Homo sapiens: one gene and its partners. The protein of the gene in region 2 purifies or fractionates together with the protein of the main gene of each other region. This does not show direct contact. Each region holds a gene or a part of one and is shown on either strand. Other genes may lie near its edges.

Region 1 (5,287 bases), on a different chromosome or scaffold from region 2:
TTTCAATATTAGCAAGTTTTTTTGCCTTTCAAATTTGATTTGGCATTTTTATTTTTATTTATTTTTTTGAGATGGAGTCTCGCTGTGTCACGCAGGCTGGAGTGCAGTGGCGCGATCTTGGCTCACTGCAAGCTCCGCCTCCCGGGTTCACACCATTCTCTTGCCTCAGCCTCCCAAGTAGCTGGGACTACAGGCACCCGCCACCATGCCTGGCTAATTTTTTGTATTTTTAGTAGAGATGGGGTTTCACCGTGTTAGCCAGAATGGTCTCGATCTCCTGACCTCATGATCCACCTGCCTCGGCCTCCCAAAGTGCTGGGATTACAGGCGTGAGCCACTGTGCCCGGCCTTGATTTGGCTTTTTTTTTTTTTTTTTTTTTTGAGACACATTCTCGCTCTATTGCCCAGGCTGGAGTGCAGTGGCGCGATCTCAGCTCACTGCAAGCTCCGCCTCCTGGGTTCACGCCATTCTCCTGCCTCAGCCTCCCAAGTAGCTGGGACTACAGGTGCCCGCCACCACGCCCGGCTAATTTTTTGTAGTTTTAGTAGAGATGGGGTTTCACAGTGTTAGCCAGGATGGTCTCGATCTCTTGACCTCGTGATCCACCCGCCTTGGCCTCCCAAAGTGCTGGGATTATAGGCGTGAGCCACCGTGTCTAGCCGATTTGACATTTTTAAAAAATGGTGAGGAGGAACATTCTCCACATGTACTAACTGACTGTGTTTATGTGAACGGTTTGTTCATATGCTTTGCTCATTTTTTTCCCCCAGGGCTGTCGGCCTCTTGTTACATAAGATTTAAGTTAAGGAAGAATTCAGTCATGTTACAAATACTTCCCATTTTTACTTTTGCCTTTTATTAGATGTTTGACTTCTTAAGTTTAAATTGGCAACTCTTAACTCTTTCTCTTTTTGTTTTCTGATCAATTTTATGGCCAGTACACAGTTTATCTTAATATTACATTTTAGCATCTGGTAGAGCAATTTTTTTTTTTTTTTTTTTTGAGACAGGGTCTTACTCTGTCACCGAGGATGGAGTACAGTGGTGCGATCTCAGCTCACTGCAACCTCCGCAACCTCAGGGTTAAGCAATCCTCCCACCCCAACTTCCCAAAGTAGATGGGACCACAGACGTGCACCACCATGCCTCTGTTTTTGTTGCTGTTGTTGGTTTGAGATGGAGTTTCGCTCTTGTCACCCAGGCTGGAGTGCAGTGGCACAGTCTTGGCTCACTGCAACCTCTACCTCCTGGGTTCAAGCAATTCTAATGCCTCAGCCTCCCAAGTAGCTGGGCTCATAGGCGCTCGCCACCACGCCCGGCTAATTTTTTGTATTTTTGGTAGAGATGGGGTTTCACCATGTTGGGTAGGCTGGTCTCGAACTCCTGACCTCAGGTGATCTGTCCACCTCAGCCTCCCAAAGTGCTGAGATTACAGGTGTGAGCCACCATGCCTGGCCCAATGCCCAGGTATTTTTAAGTATTTTTAGTAGATATAGGCTCTTGCCATATTGCCCAGGCTGGTCTCAAACTCCTGAGCTCAAGCAATCCACCTGCCTCAGCCTCCTAACATGCTGGGATTACAGCATGAGCCACTGTAATTTTTTAAAAAAATTACTTTGATTATTCTCATCTATTTATTATTCCAGATAACTTTTGGAATCACTTGAGTCTCAAATAATCTTGTTAGGATTACAACTAGAATAAACATTTTATTACATAATATTGTGTCTTAGCTGAGCACAGTGGCTCACACCTGTAATCCCAGCTATTTGGGAAGCTAAAGCAGAGGATCACTTGAGGCCAGGAGTTTGAGACCAGCCTGAGCAACAGAGTGAGACCCTGTCACTAAAAAAAAGTGGAAAAAAATTGGCCAAGTGTGGTGATGCATGCCTGTAGTCCGAGTTACTTGGGAAGCTGAGGCGGGAGGATCATCTGAGCCCAGGAGTTTGAGTTCAAGTCTTCAGTGAGCTACGTCACTGCACTCCAACATGGGCGGTAGAGTGAGACCCTGTCTCAAAAAAGAAAAAAAAGAAAGAAATGTATATAAAATGATGTGCATATCTACGTATCAAATATTTTTTATCTTACCACTCGCATCATTTTGTAAAATACATAGGTCATAGCCATTTCTGGCCCCAACCAGTTACTCTTAGAGAGTTTATAAATTATGAATGAGGCTGGGCATGGTGGCTCACACCTGTAATCCTAGCACTTTGGGAGACTGAGATGGAAGGATCACTTGAGCTCAGGAGTTCCAGACCAGCCCGGGCTACATAGTGAGTGAGACCTTTTCTCTGTCTTTATATAGAATAAAAAGAAATAATTATGAATGAGATATTTTGTCTCCCGCCTTCTATTTTTCTAACTGATTACATGGAAGAAAGTTATTAATTTTTATTTTTTCATTTTTATCTTGCTGAATTCTAGTGATTTTAAAGGGTTTTCAATAATTCTCCTGTGTTTCTTAGATAGAAAATCCAAACAAGCAGAAATAATTTTTCCAATATTTTTACCTCTTATTTCCATAAGACTTATGGCTATGACTAGACAGTCGGAACAACATTAAATGGAGCACTGTTTCATCCCTAACAGCAATGCCCTGAGTCTTTTACCTTATGTATTTGAAATAGGCATCATAGTCAGGATGTATTCTTATGATAGCTTATTACCAGGAAAGAATGCTAAAATTTCAGAGTACTTTCTCGTATCTATTGGGAAGAACATTCAATTTTCCTTCTTTCACTTACTTGTATCATGTTGGTAGACATATAATAACCAACATCATGTAGTATTTACTATAAGAAGTCAGGCATTGGCTGGGTGCGGTAGTTCATGCCTGTAATCCCAGCACTTTGGGAGGCCGAGGCGGGCAGATCACTTGAGGTCAGGAGTTCAAGACCAGCCTGGCTAACATGGTGAAACCCCATCTCTACTGAAAATACAAAAAATTAGCAGGGCATGGTGGTGGGTGCCTGTAATCTCAGCTACCCAGAAGGCTGAGGCAGGAGAACTGCTTGATCCCCAGAGGCCGAGGTTGCAGTGAGTCGAGATTGCGCCACTCAAAAAAAAAAAAAAAAAAAGAAGAAAGAAAAGAAAAAATAAGTCAGGCACTGATAGAAGTGCTCTACACCTATTAACTCAACCTCACAACAACTCTGAAGAAGATTTTGGTACTCCCTTTTATAAATGGGGAGGAAGAGGGCCAGAGAGGTTAAATAGTTTGTCCAAGGTCACACTGCTAGAAAAGAGGCAGAGAGGGTGTTCCAGACTAGGCAGTCTGGCTCCAGAGTCTGAGCACTTAAACATAACACTATGCTACTGTTCAAGGGATTCCCTGATAGTAGGCTACCCTTACATTCCTAGACTACCATTCACTTGGTTATGTACATGGTTCTTGAAAATGAATTGCTAATACTTTATTTTGAATTTCTGCATCTATATTTATGGGGTGTGTGTGTTGCTATTTGTCAGTTTTGGCTATTAGGGTTAATTGGGTTTTTACCAAGGAAAAGTTTACACAGCATACATATTCCTTGATTTTTTATAATCCATTTTCAAACCTCAAATGGTAAGGTTTAAAATAAAATTCTCTAGTTCTGAGACTGGCTTAGAAATATCTGCAATTAATCTTCAATTGATAAGAGGTAATATTTCAATTAAAATTCACATTAAATAAATCCTTCCTTCAGATCAGGCATTTAACAAGGAAAAAACCACATAGATCATACCAGATTCCCGAGAAGAGAGTATCTTCTTAGAATACAAACACAGTTAAATTAACAAAATTGAATTAACTTTCAAACTTACAGCACTGGAAAAAGTCATCCCCATCTCTCCGATGAGAGCTTTGGTTTTCTTTAGCGGTGTCTGTAAAAGTAAGTAATTATCCATTAAACAATTTCTTCCAATAAATTGAGACACACAGCCCAGAATTCCTGTTTTGTTACATCTTACTCAATCTTTTATTCCCAAATGGTCAGCTCTAAGCAACAGCCAAAGAGAGTCTTGTATGATTCTAGAGACAAGTTTGGTTCCGGCCAGCTCCATCCTGTATAAAAGTGCAGGAAGTCAAAATGCTTGCAGGAAGGGAAAGTTCAGTTGATGGCAATAACATCTTTGTGCCCTTATTAGTCATCAGCGCCCAGATAAGGCAGATAGGGCAGACCTATCTCCATGAATTAATCTTTAGAAGTAGGATGTGGGAAATGATATAAAGGGAGCCTTCCGCCCTATAGAACAGAAGTAAGACAACAGTTGGATTCTGAAAGCCAGACAAGGCCCCAGGACTCCGAGACTGATTCAAACCTCACACACTCAGTGGTGGAGGCCAGACACACACTGTTCAACTACCAACTACTGTTGTCTGCATAGACCCACAAGCACCTCAGGATAAGGACTTGAACCAGGTGGCAAGCAGGTGTACACAGAACACTGTCAGGCAAAAGGCTACTCAGAAACTATTTTATGTCCTGCTTTTCATCTTTTGTTCAAAATCTAAGATCCTTACAAGTACAGAGAACAATTAACTTCCTTCTAGAATGAGGACAAAAGTATGAAGACAGTCATTTAAATACGAATAAAAGGAACACTAATATTCTTCAGATTCCAGACAGCAAAAAGCACCATTGAAGAGGTCATTTTAGTTGTAATATGGGTCAGTTCACGATGATTCTGAGATACCTTTGAAACCTAAGACCATATTGAATGCAGTTTTAAGTATATTTTGTTGTGCAATAATTCCTTAAAGATTGCTAATCTAAATACATAAGTAGGTTAACAGGAGCCTCATTTTCAATAATGTATAAATGACTTTTCCCCATTGTTTTATATAAATACAAAACCTACGGAATCCATAAACTCAAAAGGATGAGGATTCTAACTTATCCAAAAAAAGCTCTGATAATTTCATGAGTAGATCCAGAAGAGGCTGCCAAGAGACGCTAGAGAAGCAGAAGATCTTCGCCAGCCTTCCGAAGCAAGGTCGTCAGCCATACTCTCCTCAAAGCATCACTGGGTACCATCCTCAGGAAAAGAATACTGGGCTTCATGAGACATTGGTTTGATAAAACACCTGAGTTACTGTGAGGACATTTGAAGGTGAAATGAGGATTCAAAGAGTAAGTGGAGAAAAGGACCAGAGTTGACTGTATGGGACTTAATTGTCAAACTGTCTGATAAATATGTAAAATTATGAAAGAATATCTGATTTACAGTAAGACTGTGTAATAACATTTATTAAACACAACACGTGCCAGGCATTAATCTAGGCAGTGGTGGACAGAGGAT
Region 2 (5,287 bases):
TGGGAGGCCGAGGCAAGCGGATCACAAGGTCAAGGGATCAAGACCATCCTGGCCAACATGATGAAACCCCATCTCTACTAAAAATACAAAAATTAGCTGGGTGTGGCAGTGTGCGCCTGTAGTCCCAGCTACTCAGGAGGCTGAGGCAGGAGAATCACTTGAACCCGGGAGGCGGAGGTTGCAGTGAACCAAGATCACACCACTGCACTCCAGCCTGGTGACAGAGTGAGACTCCGTCTCAAAAACAAACAAACAAAAAAAAAATTAAAGACAATCTAGTGTCTTTTCCCACCTCAAGGTCTTATATTTTGTTTCATCTGCCTGGAACACCCTTCCCTTTGCTTTCTACATGGCTGGCTTATTCTGTCTTTAGATCCCAGCTCAGTTGTTACCTCCTCAGGGATGTCTTCCCCAACCACTCTAACTCAGTGTGCCAGCTCCATCATTCTGCTTACTTTATACCTTGTCAGGTTGTTTACATAGTAATACTAATTATTCGTCTGTTTACCATCTGTTTCCCTAGAAGAACACAAGCTTCATGAGGGCGGGGACATTCTTTTATTTTTATTTTAAGTTCCAGGGTACATGTGCAGGGTATGCAGGTTTGTTACATAGGTAAACGTGTGCATAGGTAAAAGGTGGTTTGCTGCACCTATCAACCCATCACCTAGGTATTAAGCCCAGCATGCATTAGCTATTTTTCCTAATGCTCTCCCTTCCCTGGCAGGCCCCAATGTGTATTGTTCCCCTCCCCGTGTTCATGTGTTCTCATTGTTCAGCTCCCACTTATAAGTGAGAACATGCAGTGTTTGGTTTTCTGTTCCTGCGTTAGTTAGCTAAAGATAATGGCTTCTAGCTCCATCCATGTCCCCGCAAAGGACATGATCTCATTCCTTTTTATGGCTGCGTAGTATTGCATGGTGTAGATGTACCACATTTTCTTTATCCAGTCTATTGTTGGTGGGCATTTGTGTTGATTCCATGTCTTTGCTATTGTGAATAGTGCTGCAGTGAACACACATGTGCATGTATCTTTGTAATAGAATGATGTATATTCCTTTGGGTATATACCCAGTAATTGGATTGCTAGGTCAAATGGTGTTTCTGGTTCTAAATTTTGGAGGAATTGCCACACTGTCTTCCACAATGGCTGAACTAATTTACATTCCCACCAACAGTGTAAAAGCATTCCTATTTCTCCACAACCTCTCCAAAATCTGTTGTTTCTTGACTTTGTAATAATTACCATTCTAACTGGCAATTATTTATTGCCAGTTAGACGTTTATTGAATGAGCATAATCGGTAAACATTTATTGAATGAGCATAAATGCTAAGAATTACAATGTGTTGTTGTGACTACAGTAATATGCAAGTTGTAGGCATCCTGAAGAACAAAGTGATTTACTCTACCTAGAAGAGCAGGGAATGGTGCTTTGCTAGAGAGATAATGCATGTTTGAGCTGGGTCATAAAGGAAGAATAGGAATTTGTCAAGTAGACTGTGGGAGAAAGGGCATTCACCATAAATGGCAGAGTATATGCAGAGGCAAGAAAGCGTAAACTAATATGGTGTGTGTTTAGGAGGTTCTGAGCAGGTTAGGATTGTTGAAACGTAAAGGTCTAGCAGGTAGCCGAGGGTGCTGAGTGTGGAGAGTGGACAGGGGCATTGCTTGTTATGCTAAAGAATTCGACAGTGGGCATCTATGAAAAAGTTTCAAGCAGGGATGTGACACAATGGAGTGATTAGGTAATTTAGAAAGATAGACACCAGGATAGTACAAGCAGGGGAAAGAGGAGTAGGGGCAAGACCGATTAGTAAGTAATTCCAGTTGTCCAGTTGAAAAATCAAGAGAGTCTCAACTCTGCAAATAACTCCATAGAGCAGTGAATGTCAATCCTGATTACACCTCAGAATCTGTAGGTTTTTAAATTAATATACACTCTTCTACCCAGATTCAGGAACTGCCAAAATAGGGATGACCCTTCTCTCTGGCCTGTGCTTTCTTGTGATTCTCTTAATTACAGTAGGAGGAAGTTCGAGAACACTGAGACAGGAACTGGTCAGAGGAATTTTACTGTCCCATTATTCCCTATCCAAGAAGATGCTAAATCAAACTTGTACACTATCTGTCCTGCTTCCAGCCCTTCTTCAAAGGTGGGATTTCCATAATCCTCAGCCAACTTTATGAGCATGATCTGGTGATTGCTTAGAGATTTGGGAGAAAAAGTAGCAGAGAAGAAGAGTTCTGACTGCTCTTATCACTTCCTGTTGCACAGAAACTGTGGGTCAGAGGTGATACCAATCTTTTTATCATCTGAGACATGTAAAGTGCTCATATCCAACTGATCTTTCTTTTCTCATTCAAGGCACTAAGGGGAAGATTTTTTCCCCTATTCTCTGGTAGAAACCTAGAAAACAAGCCGGCATGATCTCCAGATAAGCAGCTTTGAGCAAGAGTTCCCATGGGTATTATATTTTCTTCTTCCTCTAGTCAGCTGAAGAGCAAGCAGTAGACAGACCACTGTCAACTTTAGACTTAACTTGAGAACAGTAGGTAATATTCAGATGTTAAGAAGCATAGTGACAAACTCTTATAGGGTAGAGTGGTTATAAACTTAATGTGATAGAATAAAACATGAACTGAAAGTTTTAATCGGTTTATCATGATTTCTATTGTAGGTGAAATTATTTTGGCCCTTCATCAATTAGATCTTCTTCAGAAAACTATTGTCATATACTCCTCAGACCATGGAGAGCTGGCCATGGAACATCGACAGTTTTATAAAATGAGCATGTACGAGGCTAGTGCACATGTTCCGCTTTTGATGATGGGACCAGGAATTAAAGCCGGCCTACAAGTATCAAATGTGGTTTCTCTTGTGGATATTTACCCTACCATGCTTGGTAAGTAATGTAGTTCTGTAAATATTTATTTGTAATAATGCTGGAGAATGCAACTGAAGTTGTCAGTGAGTCAGTCTTTCAGTTAGTAGTCAGAGGTCCTGCTGACTTGTTTATAACCCTGAGCAACTCATTCAACTGTGAGTCAAATCTGTACTCTGAAGAATGAAGAGATTGTTTTTCATGTCCCTGTGGCCTTCACTTACTATAGTCATTTTCCCTCAAAAGATTTGTATTCAGGAGATGACTGTAAAGTAAGCCATGTAAGATATTCGGGTTCATAACCTTATAGATATGATTTGTACATCATTTGATTGTCTACCACCACCTCCTTAAAATGTAAGCATTTCCTTTCTGAATTATTCTATTCACTTTGAAACTAGTATGAACATATTCCTCCTCAGACTCTTTAGATAGTTCTGTACTATTTGCTTTACTAGCTTCTTAATGTCTACAAGCATAGCCATATGTCTAGAAAAGCAACATATGGATAAGGGTAGTTAGCAGTTTTTGTTGAAGATACTAGAATAACGACATAATCAAATTCAAAGGAAATCATAGAACTAACTTCTAGTTTCTATCTCATTTAGCAAAGTACTTTAAATTCATTAGCATTTAAACACTAGTTTCTCTGTTCTAAGGCACCATCAATTGGAAAAAGTACCCTCAATTCATAAATTTTGGTGAAAGAAAAAAAAATAGCACAAGTTATGTTCTCTAATTTCAGAAATGTTAAAATGTGAAAGAAAGATGCATCTTAAAATCAAAGAAATCAGAGTTCTTTTTATCTGCTTCCTTCTGCCACAAAGTTCTTCCCTTAATTTAACTAAATTTATTTAGAGTTAATTTAAACCAGCGTCCTTTCCTCTTTTATTTCATATCCCTTCTCATATAATTACACATACTTCTTTCCAGTTCCTTGAACTCTTTTTTTTTGTGTGTGTGTGATGGAGTTTCGCTTTTTCACCCAGGCTGGAGTGCAGTGGTGCGATTTCGGCTCCCTGCAACCTCTGCCTAACAGTTTCAAGTGATTCTCCTGCCTCAGCCTCCTGAGTAGCTGGGATTACAGGCGCCTGCCACCATGTCCAGCTAATTTTTGTGTTTTTAGTAGAGATGGGGTTTCACCATGTTGGCCAGGATGGTCTTGATCCCTTGACCTTGTGATCCGCTTGCCTCGGCCTCCCAAAGTGCTGGGATTACAGGCGTGAGCCACTAAGCCTGGCCAGTTCTTTGAATTTTTAATCTCTTCTGTTTCTTAGTCATCATTTGCTGGTTTCCCTTTATCCCAAAGTAATGATCACACTCAGCCATATCTGGGCCACTTTCTCATTCCATTAGTTTCTAGCTGATCACTATTACTTTTCCTCATTTCTGTGTTTTTTTTAAAGAAGTTTATATAGAACTGTGTATATTTGGGTCTCTTTTATTAGTATATTTAGAGTTTTATGAATATATATGAATTTAGAGTTTTATGAATATATGCCTATATTCTTTACAATTTCCTTCCTTAATTTTTCTTCATGTAGAACTCTCCCTACCCTCCCCATTCCCAAAGAAAATCTTCCTTGGGTCATCTTTGCTTGACTTTTTAGCCTCATTCTGTTTTCTTGAGGTATAGTGACCAGAACTGCAAAAAGGTATTGTAAAAGATTATGGAAAGCTGGGGTGATTCTTTCTCCGTTTTTCCCTCAGTATATTTCAAAGTGATAGTTGCCATTTTATCTATTTGACTCTAGCAGCTAAATAGTTAAATATCTTTAGGGAGTTGTCTACAGTGAGCCCTATTCAATTCTTAGACATTCTGTCATCATATATGTTAGTTAATTAAAATGCATGGTTTAAATCATTTTTCTTTAAACATTATTTTATATTTGCCCACAATGCAAATTTTGTACTCTACAATCTTGAGAAGATACCATTATTACTTCTTGCCATTTTATACATCATAAAAGTTAAAGGTCATCTGCAAACTAGCAGATTTCATAATGTATTTAACAGGTCATATAAGAAAATACTAAATAAAATTTGTTAGAATGGGGAAATTCTCATGCATCTACCTATCATCACTGCCTAATTTATGTTACTTGCTAATAAGAATTTCTCTAGCTAAGAAAATACTGTCTCAGAAACTCCTCTAAATTCCATCCCAACTCTTCTGTAAATGATGTAAATTCCCTGCACCTGTAGGTTTTTTTCCTGCAATTTGTCAATTATTATAATTCTCTAAAACTATAGTTTTATATAGATTTTTATTTTTCATAAGATTCTTGGTAATAGACTCCTTCTAAGTCACATTTCCCTGCAGAATATGTTTTATTAACAGCATTTAGATCATGTGTTGATTAGACCTCCTCAGTAAAAGGAAATAAAGTCAAAAATAAATCT
Region 3 (5,287 bases), on a different chromosome or scaffold from region 2:
TCTTCAAGGAATGCCATCACTGTCAACGTTGCCATTGATCTAGCTTAGTCTGATCCCCATTGATCACATAGTGTGACCCCTCAAGGGGTGCTTAGGCAAGACTTTCAGCCAGTTCACATGTTTGATTATTAGCTCTTAATCAGTTCTTTTCTCTTTTAATTGTGAAGCATAATTGCCTTGCTTCCTTCTGATTTTCTTTAGCTCAAAACACCCTCCAATTACATATCCTTAAATACAGAAGCAGTAAGGGAAATGTTAGCACTCATTTTCCAAATGTTTATGACAATATCTTGGTTTGGCTATTAAATATTGTACATTAAAATTGACAAAGCCATAAACAAGCTTCCATGAGGACAGCCTCTAGTGGTGGAAAGCCGACTTGTCAGAGGGTGTATTCTGCTGGGATTTTACTGATGGGCAGTCAGGATGAATATTTAATACCCTCTGGATGTTGCCAAATCGGTTTTCTTCTATTTCTTATTGCTGACCCGGCAGATTGGGATAGCAGAGGGCTTTTCTTTGACTTCCATGAGTCCAGAGCATGTGAACACTGGCTCTCCTTTCACATTCTGAGGGATGGCTGCCCCATCCCTCAGAGGACTGGCCTCTGCCTTCTTTCAGGGGAGTCTGGGGTTCTCCTTCTTCCATCCCAGGTGGCTTCTGCCTGTTGTCTGTGCCAAGATAGAATGGGTGTCAGTGCAAGAGCCCTAAGAGGAGAGCTCAGCCCCTCCCAGATCCCTCAGGCCTGTTGTCATGGTAACACCGGGGCACTTGTTATTGGCATCAAGGAGCCAGGGTCACTGCCCTACCTGCAGACAGGTAAGGCAGGGTAGGGCACATCTGGGTAACCTTCATTAGCTATTTCCACCTGCAGACTCTTGCTGCTTTCCCCTTGCCCCTCCCTCCCTGTCTCTCTGCATGCATTGAGCACCTACTAAGTGCCAGGTTGCCATGCTGGTGAGGCTGCTGAGATGGGTGTGTCACGTTCCTGCCTTGCGGGCTCTGTGGGAGGCAGCAGGCCTAGGGACAAAGGAGAGCAGAAAAGCGTTACAGGTGTGGAGGCAGAGCCAGCACAGGGCATGAACGGGGGCAGGGGGCGTGAGGAGGGAATGGGGTAGGGGTGAGGGTGGGAGGTTGGGAAGGAGGAGTGGAGCATTTCAGGCTCAGAGAAGAGTGTGAATAAATATAGTCACGGAGGGTGGGAGCAGCATGCTTATCTTGAGATGACTAAAGCATGGGGTCTGGGGAGGGTTCACCCCCAGGCAAGCTGGCAGGGATCAAGAAGTCCCTTTTGTACATGGGAGCATGGGGTGAGGGTGGGCATATGTAATAGCTAAAAGCAAGGACAGACCAGACGGCCTGGGTTTGAATTCCAGCTCTACCACTAAGCCAGCTGTGTGACCTTGGGCAAGTGTCTTTATAAAATTGGGAATAATATTTATTTCATAGGATTGGTGAGGACCAAATAGTTAATATTTATAAAGTGCTTAGAATAGTGCTGAGCACATAGGACCAGATGAAAGTTTGCTAAATAAATGAGAATATCCTAAACTCAGAAATTAGGACTTTAGCTCATACCCAGATCATATACTCCATTTTTGTAATAATTTATAATGTTCCCTTTACCCAGAAATGAAATTCATATACAATATAACATTCCTAATCATATCTTTAAAATTTGCTATATTGTCCTAGTTGTGGGATAAAGAAAGTTTTTTTTAAAAAAAGTAGTTCATAGTAAAATAATGAGTTTCAGTGCGTAAATGCTCAGGACAGCTATGCTAGGAGGCACAGTCACAGTCAACGCTGTCTCTAAATGCACACTGACAGTCACTGTATCAGACTTGGCACCATGAGCAGGACTGCCATCCTGACAGGGTTTCTGAAGTCCTGAGTAACTCTTGCTACAATTCTGAACAAAACAAAGGAAAATCCTCTCTTGACTGACCTGGCATATTTTAAAACCATGCAAAATAAAAGTATTGTGATTATAGTAAAACGAAAGTAGGTTCTAGGCCCAGAGGCATAATTTTTGCCCATATGAATGTCATTCGAAAGTCACACAGGACACGAGGCAGAGTTTTGTTGCATGGAGTTGTCCCAGATACAATTTTACATCTTTAATGGCTTTATTCCATTGAATATATACCCCTCCCCAAATCAATATGGCAACCAGAGACCTGCTTGCAATTAGCTGCCTTATTGAGAACTGCTGTCACGGGCTGTGGGGTGGGCAGCCGTGGGCAGTAGCATGCCCCATTTGCCATTTAGGGAAATCCCCTGGCTGTGGCTAGGCTGAGAGGGAGGGAGTGTCATATGCAGGCCAATTACAAGAGCCTGAGAAAGAGATCATTGAGGGCCCAAATAGGGAATGGTCATGTGGAGAGAGCAGGGAGCCAAGGGGTGTTAAGGACAGAGGGACTCAGGGGTAGTAACAGTTTGACTGGCAGGCGCCTGTGCCACTGGCTTCCCATGCAGCTCACCCTGCATTCTTTCCTTGTCTCTCATCTGACTTGCTTCTCTCCACTTGAAACATCTCCTGCCGCAGCCACTGGCCGCCTCTATCTCTAGCATTACTGTCTGTTGTCTTTAATAAAGAGCAGTGTCTTCCTCCCTCAGTGCCCATCTCTTTGCACGTGCCACTCTGGCTGCTGCTCACAGCACTGCACAGAAACCACCTTCTCCAGACTTACCGGCAACCACCTCAGCAGCACGGCTGTTGCTTCTCAAACTTGAATGTGCATCAGAATCAATTGGAGGGCTCATGAGACTGCAGGTTGCTGAGCCTTACTCGCAGTTTTTCTGACTTAGCAGGGGCTGGCAGATTCCCAGGTGATGCTGATCTGCAGATCCATGGCGTGCACCCTGAGGGCCACAGGTGGTCAGGATCAAGTACAAGCTGCAGGCCCCTTGCAGTGTGGCCGAAGCTTACCTTTCTAACCTCATCCACTACACCTGAGCACTTGCTCCTCCTTGAATAGAGTGCACAGGGTAGTTGTCATCTTTTTCCTCTTGTCCCCTCTCTCTGGCGTGCCCTTTGATTCTCCTTCTCTGCTTGTTTCTCAGGGCCTAGCTCAGGGGCCATATACCTTTTGAAATGTTCTCTTTTCTATCAAAATCAGAATTGCCCCTCCTTTTGAAAAGTAACCACATTTATTCAACCATTCATTGATTAGTTTAACAATGATTGGGTCAGAGTCCCTGCCCTGCATATGCTTAGAATTTTGTAAGAAAGAGAAGATTTTAAGAATTACCTTCGTTGTAAGGCAGCAGTAACACAGCTATAGTAGAGCGTAAGGGAATCCTTTATTGAAGAAATAAATGAGTTTTGAGTGAGAAGAGCACGCACAGAGTGGAATCCGAAGGGAGGGTAGGCTGGCTGAGAAAGCTGCTGCTGGTCTCCGCTGCGAAGTTCTTCCCTCTTCCTGATGTCTCACCTTGAAACCACCCTATCCTGGCCTGTAACAAACACAACAGCCTCTCCTACCATACAAAACACAGATCTTCCAAGTTTTAATCACAAGCCTGGGAAGGAAACTCTCCAGTTGCAGAAAGAAAGGGCCACTCCCTCAAAGCAGGGCCTGGCCTCTGGGGGCTGCTGTGAAGGCAGCTGCTGGCGTGAGCTGGAGCAACTCTCGGACCCTCTTCCTGTCTCTTGCTGGATTCTTTCTTCCTCCTGCCAATTCACTGTTGGGGGTTAACCAAGCCTCACTCTTTTCTTTCACGTCTGCATTTATGGCCTCTCAAAGCCCATTCACTCACACGGCCAAGTCCAGGGTTTCTCAGGCTTGAAGCTACTTGTGAATCACCTGGGGATCTTGTTAAAGTGCAGATTCTGACTTACTGGGTCTGGGGTGGGGCCTGAGAGTCTGCATTTCTAACAAGCTCCCAGTGCTGCTGGTCCGAGAACAGCACTTTGAGCAGGAAGATTGCCACTTATGCTTGACAACTCCCATTCTAAGTGTTGAACTTTGAACTTGGGACAAGGCACAGAAACCAAAAAGGAATGAGAATAGCTAAAATTCACTGGGTGTTTGTTATATCCCAGGTTCTGTGCTAAACTCTTTTTATAGACCATTGCTTTTAGTCTGCACAAAACTCCTAATGGAGATAGAGACATTGTTCTTATTTTGCAGATGAAAACACCTGTGGTCTCTAAGTGGGCAGGGCTCTCCTAGCTCTGTGGAGGAAGGTGGTGCACGCAAGCTGTACACCGCCCAGGGCAGGGCTCTGGCAGGACATGGGAGGGCTCCCTAATTATATGTGGAGATTCCAGTCTCCCCTGTGCCTCAGGAAAGGTCCTACCTGCCCTGGAGATGTGGGAGGAAATCCAGAGCATAGAATAGGAGCTGACCCCTTGCCCACCTGTCAGACGTGCACCAAATTTAAAAAATGCCTCTCTTTCAAGCTTCTCAACACTTCACAATATTTTGACATGGGAAGGAAAAAAAATGGAAATGCTTTGAAACATTTCTCTTCCTTGAATTCATGTTCTCAGACCATGTGACTGAATAGAAGTTTAGTCATAGGATTCCAGTTTAACATATGCAGTTACTATAGCAATTGAGGTTTCCTTAGTAACAGTTGCAAAAATAATCCGGCCCCAATTAATAATACATTTTAAAGCTCTTTCTACTCCATGCTGAACAACCCAGTTTTTTTGGCCAAGAACCAGATAATTCAGGTGGTGTCATTTGCACTGATATAGATATCATTTGCATGCGGTGAATTGGGTTGGAAAGGAATGAAAAGGGAGCCGGTTGTTTCAAGTATTATAGGAATCCAATCTGAAAAGTCGACTGGCAAGCGAATGCAAATCTAGTTTCCAGAGCTTGGGAGCTTAATGGTAAACCCTGTCCTGGATTCCTAGTGTGCCCTAGAGGACTTTCTGCATTTGAAGAAGGGAGAAGGCAGAAGATTGGACTTGCTAACAAAAAAGATGAACCCGGGAGGGTGGGGCCGTGGCACACAGGATTTCTCTCTAAGTGGTGCCTGGTGTGTTCTTGATGGCGTGAGAAGGTCTGTGGGTTTGTGAATTCAACAAGTCTTCCTGGAGAGAATGTCCGATTTACTGCGGGAGATGCTCCGCAGTGTTGCTCAGTCATGGCATTGGGAATTGGACTTTGCCACACCTTGGCTTGCTAAATCCTTCCATCCATTCAGAACATTTGTCTGTGTGTTACAGGGAGACCAAGTGGCAGTCTGTGGCTTTCACAAGTTTTGGTTCTGTGATGCATGGGACTCAATCAACCCTTGATGCTGCCAAACCAAGCTTAAGCCAGCTGGC
Region 4 (5,287 bases), on a different chromosome or scaffold from region 2:
CTGAGGGGAAAGTTACTGGGTAAATGAGAAATTGTTCACTATATACTCTTCTATATGTTTTTAAATTTTTAAACCACGTAAATATACTACCTGTTTTAAAAAATAAAGTGTCAATCTGACCATACTACTTTCCTACTTAAAACTGTCAGGAATTCCTATCGCCTTTCAGAATAACATATATAAACATCAGAGCTCATCTCTCACACTCTCTCTTGCCCTGTCTTTCACCCGCATTTCCATAAACCACTTTGTCTCTTGGTAAATATTGTCATGGTTCAAGGATCAGCTCCTCCAGGAGGCCTTTCCTGCCTGCATATCCCTCTAGCTCATGTGCCCTCACACACACAGTGTGTGTGTGTGTGTGTGTGTGTGAGAGTGTGTGTGTGTATATATATACATATATATATATATATATTTTTTAAGAGATGGAGTCCCACTCTGTCACCCCACGCTGGAGTGCAGAGGCGTGATCACAGCTCACAGCACCCTTGATCGTCTGGTCTCAAGCAACTCTCCCACCTCAGCCTCTACGCAGCTGGCACTACAGGTGAACACCAACACACCCTGCTAATTTTTTTTTTTAGTAGACACGAGGTCTTGTTATGTTGCCCAGGCTAGTCTCCAACTTCTGAGTTCAAGTGATACTCCTGCTTCAGCCTCCCAAAGTGCTGGGCTTACAGGCATGAGCCACCGCATCCCACCCAAAGTATCTTAATTCTGTGTTTTCATCTTCCCTAGAACCTAGGCTCTTTGAGGACCAGAAATGAATCTTTTATTTCTATATCCCCACTGCCTAGCATGGTGCATGGTCCACAGCAGACACAAAAATCTTTACCAATTGAATGAGGTCATGACTGTAATGAGGAATTTATCATTTGAATTATGCATAATTATAAAAATGCTATTTAATTTATAACAGTTCTAGACATGCATAACATGTCAACATCACAGTGAAACCTGTCTAACAGATGTAGGTCAAGGACCGAACTAGGTTGTCCATTATTCTCACTATACTCTAAGTGCTGGGACACAAGATAACCCAGTCCTAAAAGGAGAAATCAACATTTTAAGCAGCTCTACAAAGAAGTAGAAAAATTGAAGACATCAGACAAAAGTTTCAAGAGCAGTCTTAAAATGATTAAGAGGCTCTAATAAGAGATTTCATAAAAGACTTAAAGAAAAAGCTTTCCTGTGGCAAATACTTCCTGTTAGGAGAACAGTTGCTCATCCCTCAGCTCAAAGGACCACAGGAAGCTGTGCCCATTGTACCTAATGAACTTTTACAATTATCTAACTTTTCTCATCTTCTTCTCCCTCAAGGTGAGTACCAACAATGCTAATGCAATCATGACTTCCATGTGAACTTCCGGCCGAGTTTTTTTTTTTTCCTTCTTTCATTAACCATCAGAGATAGCCAGTGCTGAATAAGCCAAGTTTCCATTCTGGAGACTATAGATAAAAATAGCCTGGATCACTCTGAGTGGATCATAATTTCTCATTTATACTAATGAAATAAAGTTTTCTGTCCTACAAATGTCAAATGTCATTCAAGTGAAAACCAGAGAACCAAGTGTCTCACTCTGTAGGATCCAAAGCCACATAAAAAGGACCATTTTAGTCAACTCTTCACTGAAGGTTCAAATTCAAACAATCCATATCTCCTCCAATCTGAAGGTGAGATAACCCCTTCCCTGCCACACCACAGCTTCTGCCACTGCCACTCAAGCCAGAAGCATAAGTGAAGTAAAGAATGACTCTATTATTCATTGGAATAACAGAACCATATGTGGGCTACACACTTAGGCCATGTGCAGTGGGCACTGCTATTTTGGTCCATCCGGCACCCAATCCCTCTACTTCTTGTAAAATACTGAAGTTCCTTTCCAAAACCATTTCTTAAGCTTTCTAAGTGGCCCAGGGGTACTGGATGACTCTATCCTACTTCCCAACCCCCACCAAGCCTGGCCAACCATAGCATTCTTTTGACCACGGAGATGTAATTAGGGATAGGCCCAAGACCCAATCAAAGTTCATCTTTGAACTTTTGCTGGAGCTACCAGGAAAGAACTTTTTCTCTTCTAGTTATCTTATCAGTAGGAGAAGGGACATTACCTGACAATGGAGCCGACTATGCAGAAGAGCCAAGAGATAGCCAAAGAGAAAGGCCTTGGAGATGCTGCCTGAGGCCCTGTATCCAGGTGTGTCTGGGGCCATATTTACTCTTGAACTTCCCAACTAGGGGAGCTATAAATGTCCCTTCCAGTTTTTTCCTGCTTAAGCCAGTCTTGTCTTTTTTTCACTTGCTACCGTAAGATTTTTGTCTTGTACACAAAAATAGAATCAGCTCATACGTAACTTTTTTGTGTAACTTCTCCTTTTCCTTCTTTCCTCTCCTCAACCTTAACATTAAAAGCTAAAGGCTCTTGTTCTGAGTCCCCTCTAATAAAAAATAAAATAAAATAAGCTAAAGGTTCATGAGAAAGCTGGGTGAATAAGAGAAGCATGCTCTCTGGATCTGTCCACAAACTCCTGCCTTATCTATCTATACAGGGCTTATTTATCTATACCATTCTGTCACCCTCCTGCCTCTACAGACAGACACTAATCATAGATGAAATGACATTCAAAGTTTCTTGCAGTTCTGAGCTATATGATTCCTTTAAGCCTCAGTTGCCTCATCTGTAAAGTGGGAGATGATCTCTCTCACAGGATTCTTAGGAGGATGAATACAGCAAAAGAATACTTTACAAATGTTTCTTGAAAAAGTATGTGACCTTCTCTATTCCCAAGGCAGTTTCTCAATACTGTATCCACCAAAAAAGGAAACACAGGTCATTCAAGAAATTATTACAGAATGCCTAAAATGTATAAGGCACGTGGGGGATATAGAGATTAAAACATCTAAAAATGCTTCCAATGTAGAATATCAGACAACTACAAAACTAGCACTACATTAGGGCTGGGCGCGGTGGCTCACGCCTGTAATCCCAGCACTTTGGGAGGCAGAGGCAGGTGGATCACGAAGTCAAAAGATCGAGACAATCCTGGCCAACGTGGTAAAACCCCGTCTCTACTAAAAATACAAAAATTGGCCAGGCGTGGTGGCAGGTGCCTGTAGTCCCAGCTACTTGGGAGGCTGAGGCAGGAGAATCATTTGAACCCAGTAGGCAGAGGTTGCAATGAGCCGAGATTGCACCACTGCACTCCAGCCTGGGTGACAGAGCGAGACTCCGTCTCAAAAACAAAACAAAACAAAACAAAAAAACACTAGCACCATATTGAAGAAAATATACAAGTTGTCATCAAACAACAACAAAATAAGCTATGGGAACTGAGAGGATAGAAAAACTACTTCTTTGTAGGAGGTGGAAAGGTTTCATGGAAGAGACGGCATTCGATTGTGCCTCATTGCCCAGGGAAGCATTACCAGTCAGAAACCTCCTCAGACAGGAAATCAAGACTGACTTTATCCATATGTACAGACATGCCACCTACAATCTTAGCATCCCATGATCCTAAATGCCTTTCAAATAACTCTTCTAAAAGATAAAAGCAGACTAAAACATTTTGCTTCCTTGTTACAAAATCATAACCCACGCAGAAAACTATTAGGATAATTTTCTCAATGAGAATCATATTTTTATAACCAGAGGGAATACACATTAAATTTTTAAACATCTATATTGTTTCCCAGACAATTCTAATCGCCATAACTTTCTAGTGAAACTGAAAATTTCTTGAGGGCAAAGCCCAGTGTTATTTCTCTGTGCCCCTCACCTTGCCACACACACTCATTGTATGAATACACAAAAACAAAAAAAGACTCATCTAAAAAGTGTTACATTAAAAAGTGTGAACATGTCACTCCCAGATCTTAAATCACTTATGTTTCCCAGCACACACCACGCATTTCCACAATGTGCCATGTGTTGATACTATTCTCCTTCTTGGAATGTCCTTGAATCTGGAATTCCATTCCCAGCTCCGAAAAATATTTCCTCCAAGGCCTAGCTCAAATGTGGCCTTTTTTTTTTTGAGGCACTACTCGACTTGTCCATGAAGAATTAATTCTTTCTTCCTCTCCAGGTACTCTGGACATATCCCTCCTATAGTATTCTCACTATAGAAAAATGATACTTATGTGTGTGTCTGTGTGTGTTTGTGTGTGTGTGTGTGTGTGAGAGAGAGAGAAACACCTACCAGAGTGTAAATGCCATGTGGGTAGTGTATGGGTCTTTTTCTGTATGCCCAGCACATAGGATGAATCTTACATAACAAGTGTTATATAGTAATGTGCCAAATAAACATTTGTTTAATTAAACCAAATAAACAGAAAACAAAGAGGGGAAAAAAGGCAGAAACACCACTATGCTCATTTACTTCTCCTGAAATATTGGAGTTCCTGAATTTAGAATAAATGGTAAAGTGTCAGAATTAGACCAAAGTCATCTGCACATGAACTAAAACATTTGAAACCAAGGAAAATAGAGAGATTAAGAACAGCCTCCTATGACGTCATTGTCTTGATAACAAGACTGCTTCAGTTTCAGTCATTAAGTTCAGCCCTTGAAGGCTTGAAGGTATATTCTCATCAACCACTAATTTGTTAATAAATTGAGATGCCCCTAAGCATTGTAGAAAGCAGACTATAAGAACTGGCCAAAGATGGCCCATATAGCATCCAGTCAAGACACAAAACCACTCTATAGGGATGAAAAATGTACATCTTGTAAATGTAATCCAAAAGATTCTAACATCCACATCCCATTCTGGAACCCAGAGGAAAATAGAATGTTTAAAAATGAAAAATGTTCAATGCTTGCCAGAGGAATCTAGATAAAATTTTGAGACAGACCAATGTATATATGCAAATGAGATGGCTGCCCTATTAAAAAATAGATAAACAGATGTAAGGATTTCTCCTTAGAAAGAGGGACAGACTGGCTTGGCGCGGTGGCTCACGTTTGTAATCCCAGCACGCTGGGAGGCCAAGGCAAGCGGATCACAAGGTCAGGAGATTGAGACCATCCGGGCCAACATGGTGAAACCCCATCTCTATTAAAAATACAAAAATTAGCTGGGTATGGTGGCGTGTGCCTGTAATCCCAGCTACTTGGGAGGCTGAGGCAGGAAGGAGAATCATTCGAACCCAGGAGGTGGAGATTGCAGTGAGCGGAGATCGCGCCACTGCACTCCAGCCTGGTGACAGAGCGAGACTCCGTCTAAAAAAAAAAAAAAGAAAAGAAAAAAGAAAGAGAGATTGATTATCAATTACCAGGCAAGTTAG

What was found. Proteins that work in one complex are often made in the same cells at the same time.
Region 1: the proteins of ARSK (region 2) and GNS fractionate together in Homo sapiens (co-fractionation; one large-scale study listed by BioGRID). This does not show direct contact.
Region 3: the proteins of ARSK (region 2) and IGSF3 fractionate together in Homo sapiens (co-fractionation; one large-scale study listed by BioGRID). This does not show direct contact.
Region 4: the proteins of ARSK (region 2) and SUMF1 purify together in Homo sapiens (affinity purification with mass spectrometry; one large-scale study listed by BioGRID and IntAct). This does not show direct contact.

The regions. Positions count from the first base shown.
Region 1 is NC_000012.12:64,748,890-64,754,176, forward strand, and holds part of GNS (N-acetylglucosamine-6-sulfatase precursor), read right to left. Parts: intron 3,869-5,287; coding exon 3,809-3,868; intron 1-3,808. UniProt on the Homo sapiens protein: Hydrolyzes 6-sulfate groups in N-acetyl-d-glucosaminide units of heparin sulfate and keratan sulfate.
Region 2 is NC_000005.10:95,588,721-95,594,007, forward strand, and holds part of ARSK (arylsulfatase K precursor), read left to right. Parts: intron 1-2,680; coding exon 2,681-2,905; intron 2,906-5,287. UniProt on the Homo sapiens protein: Catalyzes the hydrolysis of pseudosubstrates such as p-nitrocatechol sulfate and p-nitrophenyl sulfate. Catalyzes the hydrolysis of the 2-sulfate groups of the 2-O-sulfo-D-glucuronate residues of chondroitin sulfate, heparin and heparitin sulfate.
Region 3 is NC_000001.11:116,590,717-116,596,003, reverse strand, and holds part of IGSF3 (immunoglobulin superfamily member 3 isoform 2 precursor), read left to right. Parts: intron 1-262; exon of another isoform or gene 263-671; intron 672-935; exon of another isoform or gene 936-1,020; intron 1,021-2,693; exon of another isoform or gene 2,694-2,853; intron 2,854-5,287.
Region 4 is NC_000003.12:4,460,253-4,465,539, forward strand, and holds part of SUMF1 (formylglycine-generating enzyme isoform 1 precursor), read right to left. Parts: intron 1-5,287.